Regions from separate parts of the Homo sapiens genome. Here region 2 is linked to region 1. Evidence: fine-mapped expression QTL. Tissue or cell type: prefrontal cortex. Region 1 holds a variant in brackets; the other region holds the start of a gene. All regions are shown on one strand. Distances are from middle to middle.

Evidence for each region. PIP is the estimated chance that this variant, and not a neighbour inherited with it, causes the effect.
Region 2: TSGA10 starts here. The variant in region 1 is fine-mapped to the expression of TSGA10 in prefrontal cortex (CommonMind, PIP 0.95).

The regions. Positions count from the first base shown.
Region 1 is chr2:98,862,808-98,867,957 of GRCh38, reverse strand. All of the region lies in intron 1 of CRACDL (CRACD like), which reads left to right. Among named protein-coding and RNA genes, the nearest start is that of CRACDL, 71 kb to the left of the region's middle. The variant AG/G (reference allele first, on the strand shown) is at 2,159.
Region 2 is chr2:99,151,991-99,157,140 of GRCh38, reverse strand. It overlaps TSGA10 (testis specific 10), which reads left to right and starts at 2,199. Exons shown (of 21, transcript NM_025244.4): 1 at 2,199-2,448. It overlaps LIPT1 (lipoyltransferase 1), which reads right to left and starts at 2,174. Exons shown (of 2, transcript NM_145199.3): 1 at 2,090-2,174. RefSeq lists enhancers at 1,597-1,646, 1,677-1,756, 1,837-2,036, 2,067-2,296, 2,357-2,556 and 1 more.

The DNA.
Region 1 (5,150 bases):
AAAAACAAATTCAGCTCCACATCTGCTGTGCTGCAGAAATGTCAGTCATAAATGTAGGGTTCTAGATAAATGAAGCAGTATTTTGGGGATATATGCATAGAAAAATGGAGTATATTACCTCAATAAACTCATGAAGTTAAAAATAAGCCAGCCCTTGCAAAACTGTGCCCAGGGCTTCGGTGTCCTGTTCGTCACATATGTGTGCAGCAGTCAGCACGAGTCATAGCTCTCACTCAGAGACTGAACGTTGCCAAGTTAGATGGCCTCTTTGCAAGACACTCCTCAGCGTTAGAGTGAATTTATATTGTATCTTCCCAAGAATTATGCAAATAGAATTTCTAAAATAAGGCTATGAAGTCTGATGCTTAGCTCTTTTTGAAATAATGGTTTTGTAAAAGTCTCTGATAGTTTTTTTTTTAGTCTAATGACCTGAAAATGTCTAAACTAATGTTTTTCAAATCTCATATGAAAACATTCACCTCAATGAATGTGTAAACAGGTCGCTGTTATGAAAGCTGTCATGCTTTGCAGTCTAAGACATGAATTGTATTCAGGGGTGTTCGTGCAGGCTTAGGTGGCCCATGTGAACATAGGCTCATGTGTGCATATATAGAGTATACACTGTGTTGGATAGCTGTATGCATGCCTAGCTAAGTTAGTTAATTTGTCCATTTATAGGGACTCTGAATACCACTAAATCAACTGTTATGTAGGTAGTTTCTAAAAAATAGTGTAGTTTATATAAGATACTATTTATATGCTTATAAACTATGCTGTTTATCTCATGGCTGACTGAGTGTTGGAATGAAGCTATGGTATTTTCTTGCAAAGAAGCAGCCCAGCAAGTTGTGGCCTGCCATTCTCTCTAGATGCCCTCACTGTCCCTGCCCTGCCCACGGCTGAGGGGAAGCCTGGGGAAGTAAACCAGGCCTCTAAGCAGGGGCCTCCTCTGCTTCTATATTCCTTTACTCCCAAACCGAGGGGTCTGCAAAGCCCAGCAGACTTCAGCTCTGTGTGGCTATAGGGTAGATGATGTTTATAGGAAGACACTAGGCAAGAAGAACTCAGGCTAAAGAAATGTGACATTGTCTAGCTGAGTCATAGATTTTGAAAGAAGTCTGTCCTTGAGGCATTAATGTGTTGGGTGATCATTAAGAAGTGATTCTGCTGGTCACGGTGGCTCACACCTGTAATCCCAGCACTTTGGGAGGCTGAGGCGGGGGATCACCTGAGGTCAGGAGTTCGAGACCAGCCTGGCCAACATGGTGAAACCCTGTCTCTAATTAAAAAAAAAATACAAAAAATTAGCCTGCGTGGTGGTGCGTGCCTGTAATCCCGGCTACTCAGGAGGCTGAGGCAGGAGAATCACTTGAACCCAGGAGGAGGAGGTTGCAGTGAGCCAAGATCATGCCATTGTACTCCAGCCTGGGCATCAAGAGTGAAACTCTGTCTCAAAAAAAAAAAAAAAAAAAAAAAAAAAAAGAAGAAGTGATTGTTTCATCTATCAGGTGTTACTGCTAAGTGCCTCTGGATCATTTGCTCATTCATTCATTCATTCATTTAACAATATTTATTGAGCACTACCATGCAGCTGTTCTATGCTGGTGACATGTTATCTCTCCTCATGGAGTTAGTCTTCCAGTTTTACCTACTTAGCAAGAAAGGGGCTTTCTCTAGGCCACGCCTTACTTTAGTTTTTAAACATCAGACAAACAGTAACTACAGGGCAATAAGATACTTCAAATCTGACCAGCCAAGTTCCTTTACTCGCCCTTCTTGCTTTACTTAGAGCTCTGTCATTTAGCATCTGAATATTCTCTAGTTTCAGCCCTTTGATTATGAGATTTCTTTGCTTTCTTTTCTCTTATATGTCAGAGCAGATCTGTCTCTCTGTCCTCGCTATCCTTTCTGACAAGAGGACAGAGAAGGTTTTGCACACAAGTGGATGACAGCTTCAGAGAGCAGGAGGTGGGAGGCAGAGGTGAGTGGATCACCTGAGGTCGGTGGTGGGCACCTGTAATCCCAGCTGCCCAGGAGGCTGAGGCAGGAGAATCACTTGAACCCAGGAGACAGAGGTTGTAGTGAGCTGAGGTTGCGCCACTGCACTCTAGGCTGGGCAACAAGAGCGAAACTCCGTCTCAAAAAAAAAAAAAAAAAA[AG/G]CAGAAAGTCCTCTTGACACCTTCAGGGAGAAAGGGTTGGCTGCAGTGAGGTCCGGTCTTGACGCCTCTTTGGTGTGGGTACAGCTGTCAAGTCCCTCTGCTTTTGAGGATAATAATATCATTAAGCAGCAAGCTGGCACAATTTTTGAACAGAGATTTCTCACAGGAACTCTGCAAGCATTTCACATTCCATTTGCTTCAGTAATGTGAAACTTATTTTTCTAAAAAAAGGTACAGGCAGATCTTGGCATGACTCACTAGAGAACAATAGTTAAGTCATAATTTATTTTCATCTTTTTCCCCAGGAAAGGGAAAAATTGATTAAAAGTATGGGGAATGTAACCAGGCGTGAATCTGTAAAGGGGAAATGGATCAAAGAATCACACAAACATGTATACATGTAAAATGGGTAAGTTTTGTGAACAAAAGGCACAGGGTCTCCCATAGTATGTCGCGGGAGGTCTTGACACATCCTGAAGGGACAGATTGGTCTTCCTGCGGAAGTGGAATGAAAGCTGAAATCTGAAGGATGAGTAGGAGTAAGACCAAAGTGGAATGTGCAGGGAACATCAAGTTCAAGCAGAAGGAACAACATCTGCAAAGGCTCCAAGCTGGAAGGAAACGGAGTGCTATTGGTGGAGGGAGAGCAGGGCTGAGGCACGCATTCTGCTGGTGTGCACAGGGCTTGGGTTGGAGTCCAGCCCACCACCTCCTCTTGTTGACGTTTGTGTCTGTCCACGTTTGTGTTTTCCCCTATTCCTGCCTGCACCTCCAGTCTTCTCCATGAGATTGCATCCCTCTTCCTGTAACAGTTGTTTCAGTGTGAGTTTGCTGGAAACAAATTGTATCAACTTTTCTTTTCTGAAAATGTCTTTATTTCATCCTTTTTCCGCAGCTTTGATGACATATTAGTTACATATCATAAAGTTCACCTGTTTAAAATGTATAATCAGGCCAGGCGCAGTGGTTCATGCCTGTAATCCCAGCACTTTGGGAGGCCAAGGCCTGTGGATCACCTGAGGTCAGGAGTTCAAAACCAGCTTGGCCAGCATGGTGAAACCCCGTCTCTACTAAAAATGCAAAAATTAGCCAGGCATGGTGGTGGCTGCCTGTAGTCCCAGCTACTCCAGAGGCTAGGGCAGGAGAATTGCTTGAACCTAGGAGGCGGAGGTTGCAGTGAGCCGAGATCGTGCCGCTGCACTCAAACCTGGGTGATGGAACGAGACTCCGTCTCAAAAAAAAAAAAAAAAGGGTACAATCAATGGGTTTTTGTTAAAGAGTTGTGCACCAAGGAACACAATCTAATTTTAGAACATTTCCATTTCCCCAGAAAGAAACCTTGTGCCCATTAGCAGTCACTCCCATTCTACCTGTGTTTCCCCAGCATCCCTCTCCCCACCTCTTTGCAACCACTAATCTACTCTGTGTCTCTGTGGATTTGCCTAGTCTGGACATTTCGTGTAAGTGGAATCATGCAGTATGTGGCCTTTTGTAGCTGCCTTCTTTCACTTAGGTTAATGTGTTCAAGATTCATCCAGATTGTAGCATATATCATTACTTTATTCCTTTTTCTTGATGGATAATATTTCATTACATATATGTAACATGTTTTTTATTCTATCTATCCAGAGATGGATATTTGGGTTATTTCTACTTTTTGATTATTATATAAATAATGCTGCTATGAACATTGGTGTACAGGTTTTTTTGTGCACGTTTTAGTTGTGGTAAAATGCACATAACATAAAACTTACCATCTTAATCATTTTAAGTGGTATTAAGTGCGTTCAGATTGTTGTGCAGTCATCATCACTGTCCACCCCCAGAACTCTTTTTGGGGTCTTGCAAAATGGAAACACTACGCATTAAAAAGTAACTTCCTAATCCCTTCTCCCTCAGCCCCTGGCAGTCACCATTTTACTTTCTGATGCTACGATTTTGACTACTCTGAGTACCTCATATAGGTGGAATCTAGTTTTGAGACTAATAATTCCAGGTGCTTCTTGACTTACGATGGGGTTATGTCCTGATATACCCATCATAAATTGAAAATGTCATTAAGTTGAAAATGCACAGCTGACTGGAGACTTGGTGCCACTGCCCAGCATTGCAAGAGACGGATGGTTTCTATTGACTGGGTATTACTTTTGCACCATTGTAAAGTCAAAAATCATAAATTGAACCATCATAAGTTGGTTTTAAAAGCCTGTACCTCTTTTTTTAAAAAAGTGCTAGTCTCTTAAATCACGTAAAATACAAAACAATGGAGTTACAAACCATTTTTACAATAAGAGTAGCTTTAATAATTCCCGTGTATTTACTTTTATTGAGATCTTTATTTCTTTATATGCCTTCAAGTTAATATCTAGTGTCCTTTCATTTCAACCTGCAGGACTCTTTTTAGCATTTCTTGCAGAACAGCTCTAGTAGTAACAGACTCCCTCAGCTTTTATTTATTTGGGAATGTCTTAATTTCTCCCTCACTTTTCAAGGATACTTTTGCCAGTTATAGGACTCATGCTTGACATTTTTTTCTTTTCACACTTTGAACATATCAGCCTACTACCTTCTGGCTTCCAAAGTTTCTGATGAAAAATCTACTGATAATCTTATTGCAGATCTGTTGTATGTCACAAGTCACATCTCTCTTGCTGCTTTCAAGATTTTCTGTCTTTGGCTTTCAACAGTTTGATTATAATGTGTCTTGTTGTGGGCTTAAGTTCATCCTACTTGGATTTCATTGAGCTAAATGGATGTTTTATACATACACACACATAAACATATGTGTGTGTATGTATAAACACATAAATGAATAAATGTATAAATGTAAAATGTATATATAGATATATGTATGTATAAACATATAAATGTAGAAATATATAATGTATATTTCATCAAATTTGGAAAGTTTGCAGCCATTATTTTCTCAAATATTCTTCCTCCCATTTCTCTCTCTCTTCTCTTTCTGGAACTCTTACAATGTGTATGTTG
Region 2 (5,150 bases), 290 kb before region 1:
TAAGGACTTAAATTTTTAATCCTGGCTCTGCCACTTACTAATGACTTTAGGGAAGTGGTTTAACCTCTAGCTGCTTCAGTGGCCTCAGACGTCATAAAATGGTTGAGAGAATTAAATGTGTTAATATGCATAAGCCATTCATGTTTGGCAAATATGAAATGTTAACTGTTATGACAGGGTTCTCCCTTTCCCATCTCTATTCTGTGCTTACTGTTCCTATCATATACCATGTATTCCCTCAAGTGAACAAAGATTCCTAACCAAGACACATCAAAGTGGCATTTACCTTGATAAATTAACTATAGTCCAAGATATTGACTTTGGTCAAAAATGTGATCTTGTTAGGGTTCCAGAATTGATCCAATTCATGTATTGAGCCAATGCATGTATTTTAATAGTGCTAAAAATATCTCTCTTCATCCAGGTATTGTATATACAGTGTGAATAAAACACAACAAAGGTATTAATTCAACAAAGTTTTCATCAATTACATGACAGACATTGTTCTTAGCACTTGGGAATCATCAGTGAGTCAAATGAATAAAGGTGATAAGGAGGGCTATTAAAAAAAGTAGATGGCCGGGCGAGGTGGTTCACACCTGTAATCCCAGCACTTTGGGAGGCCAAGGTGGACAGATCACCTGAGGTCAGGAGTTTGAGACCAGCCTGGCCAACATGGTGAAACCCCGTCTCTACCAAAAATACAAAAATTACCTGGGCGTGGTGGCAGGCGCCTGTAATCTCAGCTACTCGGGAGGCTGAGGCAGGAGAATCGCTTGAACCCGGGAGGTGGAGGTTTCAGTGGGCCGAGATGGGCTGGGCAACAGAGCGAGATTCAGTCTATTAAAAAAAAATGTAGAGCTGATAAAGGGAGGATTGTAACTGTGTATGTGAGAAAACTTACATTGCAATTTTAAATAGGGTTGTTAGGCTAAGCCTCATTAAAAAGGCATCATGTGAGAAAAGATGCAAGAAGCTGTTCTAAGCACCTGAACACGTAAACCAATAAACAGACCTCAGTGAGGATGTGACATTTCAGTTGAACCCCGAAAGATAAGAAAAAATCACACAGAGTGAGAAAAAGTGAAAACAAAGGGATGTCCAAAAATCCCTGACTGCCAGCTTATTGATTTACAAAGAGAACTATAGACCATCTATCAGATATTCAGATGAGCCTGTGCAATTATTCACTGTAGGTCTGGTGACAAGCCAACTCTTAAGTTTGCTTGGTGAATACATAATCAGAAAAGGACTGAGTTACATGATATGAACGTCTGACGGAATGGGCTCTGGGGAAGACACTTCCTTAACTCAGGAGAGCCCCTGCTCTTAAGCCGGGATACCCTCTCTCCCCTAGAGAAGGCGTGGATTCATCTGGCACAGGTGTGCCCCTCTTTTTTTATTCTATGCTCCAGTAGCGGATCAGACCCCGACTGAGTAATGCACGGTATTTCAGGATATTTCACAGTCGTTGGGATAGTGTCAAGCCTTTGAAGTTCTGGTTAAATTTTGTTCCTTCAAAATCACTTTGAATCTTTCTACTCTCACCCTTTAATGACTAATTTTTTGAAGTTTTTCCTCGGAAGACTTCCTTACCTTCCATGTTCTTGGGACACTTCGCTACCTCTGCACTGCCAAACACGGCTCCCCATCACTGAACTGAAAGCGAAAACAGCACAATCCCATCTATCTTTCTAGGCAGGCGCAGCTTCTTCATAAGACCTCGCCAAGACCCTATTATTTTGTCCCCTCTCTAATGATATACAACTTACTCAGAATCTCATTACGGTCGTGTGCATGTTTTACTTCGCCCTTTTGGCTCCCAGGGGGCGTGCACACAGCTAGCGTCCAACATGTTTTACGATATTTACCCTCCCTCCTGTGTTCGGGATCAACCGTTCCTAACAGTGAAATTAGGTCGTCCCAAGTGCTGAGGAGAAAGTGTGCACACAAGAGGCTTCAACACCGGCGGAGGCGACCCGCAAGTCCTGACCCACCGCCAGAAACACCGCGCGCGCCCAAGACCCCACGGCCGCCCACGCGCTACGGCCCGCAACATCCCGGTTTGAAGCGTTTCCGCTTCACCCACCTGCGGCTTCCGGTCGTACCCACGGCCTCGTGAGGGCTCGAGCTGGAAAAGTGCGTCATACGACCCCGAGCAACCGGCAGGCCTTGCGCGCGATGCTGCCCCGCCCCCTGAGGGCCGGCCCCCTGAAGCGCAAGAGAAGGAGGGGCGCGCAGGGATCGCGCCTAGTCTCTCCGCCTGCGGAGCCGTGGGGTCCCGGCAGCCCGCAGGAGTGCTAAGTAAGGGTCCTTCAGGGCGGGAACCAGGTTCCAGGCAGGGACGCAGGCTACGTTCGAATAAAAGTACCGAAGGTCATAAGGCCCCAGTTCAGATGGGACTTCCCCGCGTGACAGCACAGAGATAACGGCCAGCCCTGGGCGAAGGTAGGAGAGCGGGCGTGCCAGGTTGGAGGGGTCATTTCGTGGAGCGAGTTTAGGGGGAGCCCCCAGAAGCCCAGAGCAGTCAGGTCACACGACGGGCAGGAAGGAGTACCAGCAAATACTTTTTATTGAGCATACAGGTATTACGCTGGGTCTTTACATATCTCCTCCAAATAAGTGAGTCCAAATGGCAGGTAACTCGAAAGGTGAGAAATTCAAGTCAGCTTTGAAAGACACATTGCATTTAAAGGAAAAACGGTATTCGCAGATGATAATACAGGATGGAGTGGATCAGAAAACACACTGAGGCTACTGATCATTCCCATTTGCCAACTCACTGCAGTTGGCAAGAAAACTCTGTGACTCCATGAGATGGGAAATTACACCAGCAGTCAAGGTAGCAAGGTAATAGTTTCGGCTAAGTTTTGCTGCATAACAAACTGCCTCAAATAGTGGTTTATATCTCTAACGTGGGCAAGGTGGGTGATTCTTCTGCTAGTTTCTCCTGGGCATATTCATGTGGCTTCATTCAGCACAGGTTGGCTACGCTGGGCGGTCCAAGATAGCCTTATTCATGCTCTGGCAGGTGCTGCCTGGCTGCTAGGGCATCTCAATTCAGGCCTAATCTTGGAAGCAGCGCCTCAGCCATATTCTATTGGCCAAAACAACAACAAAGCCAGCCCAGAGTTAAGGCGTGGGGTAATGGACTTCACCTCTTGATGAAAGAAGCCCAAAGAATTTGTGGTCACCTTTTTCAACCTTGCACAGAAATTAATCTCTCCTTCAGTTAAAATAGAAACCACTAAGACTTGCCTCTTGGAGTAAGAATCATTCAGTGTTCAGTTTGCTGATGCTGATACGGTAAATGACCAGGGCTTCATATAAAGCTACAATGAAGACATAATGACACCTCCTTTCTTTATTATCACACCTTTTACCAAGGTCACTCTGAGTAAGTCTATCTTGTATTATGCAGGTGGGAATGAATTTTGTTCAGAGTTAACTGCACTAGGAATTTTCCTAGTTATTATTAAAAACAGTCACAGAATATTGTTGCTCTTTGCTTATATTACTTCCTTCTAAATTCCCTTTCTCTGAAATCTGAGATGGTACAACTTTGGTTTTTTTTCCTAGTTTCTTGATGAAGAGGTTTTAAAGAATCCCATTCCCTCCTCCCTGCTCCAGGACTTCTGTCCCTTGGTTATTCTTACCTTTACCTACTTCTTCAGCTTCTCCACTGGAACCTTTCAAGTGACACTCAAACATGCTGTACTCTTTAACAATCCTCCAGTGACCTCATTTCTCTTTCCACTTGTCATCCTGTCTGCTACCCTTCTGAGCCAAGCTTCTTGGAAAAACTGCTATACATCCAGTATCTACTTTCTCACTTCCCATTCATTGTTTCAACGTACTCCAAAATGGCTTTTCCCCATTATTCCAGCAAAAGTGCTTTTGCTAAGGTCACGGGTGACATTCATATTGCTAGATCCACTGGACTTTTCAGTATTCATCTAAGTGTTCATTTGACTACCTCAACCTGGAGATTCCTGTGGACAACTTTGACATTACCCTGTCAACTCCTCAGTCCCTTTTGCCAGGTTTTCCTCCAGCCTCACTGCCAACTCCGCAGTCCCCTTTGCCAGCTACCCTGATCTAGTCAGCCCTAAATGTTGGAGTTCCTCAGATCTTTATCTCACACTACATTTTCCTTAAGCAATTTCATTCATTCTATGGCTCTAAGTACCATTTCTGTATACAACTTCAAAATTTATATTTTTTAGTTCCATAGATACAACTGCCTTGTAAACCTGGTAAGTCTAAAAGCCATGCTCCTGAACTCACTCTTTCCCCCCAGGGATCCTGCATGCATAAAGGCTAAAGCCTTTTTTGCCAGAAGCCCTTTCTTCTTCCTCACTTTCCGCTTCCAAACCATGACTACATCCTGTCAGACTTCACCTGGACTCTATCCCCTTCTCTCCACTTTTATGACCATCACCATCATTCACTTAGACAACCATGTCACTGCAAAAGCTATAAATGTCCTCAGAGGCTGCTCTATGGAGTAGCCATTCTGTTTCTTTACTTTCTTAATCAACTTGCTTTCAAAAATGTCCTGAGATACGCTTTCCCATTTCCCACGTTAAAATCAAGTTTATGGCCCAGTGGGAGGATCACCTGAGGCCAGGAGTTTGAGACCAGTCTGGGTAACATTGTAAGACTCTGTCTCTAAAAAAATACAAAAACATGCTGGGTATGGTGGCACATGCCTGTAATCCTAGCTACTAGGAGGCTGAGGCAGGAAGATCGCTTAAGAACAGGAATTCGACACTGCACTGAGCTATGATCGCTCCACTGCACTCCAGCCTGGGCAACAGAGTGAGACCATCTTAAAAAAAATCAGTTTTATGTGGTATGTCTTGTGTTGTGTTATGTCCCTCTGAATGCTATACGTTTCTTCATGGCATATCACAATTTGCATCTTATATAATTACTGTATAATCTCCTGTCTTTCCTAGTAGACAGGCACAAAACTCTACAAGGCACTGGCTATTTTATTCACTACTGTATCTCCAGCACCAAGCACAGTGCCAGGCTAGGTGAACAAATGAATGATTTATGTATTTTTTTTCTCTTCTAAAGAATTACGTTCTGTAAATAATAAAAAGCATTGTCTTTTTGGCTTATGTCCCATTCAACAATTGTTT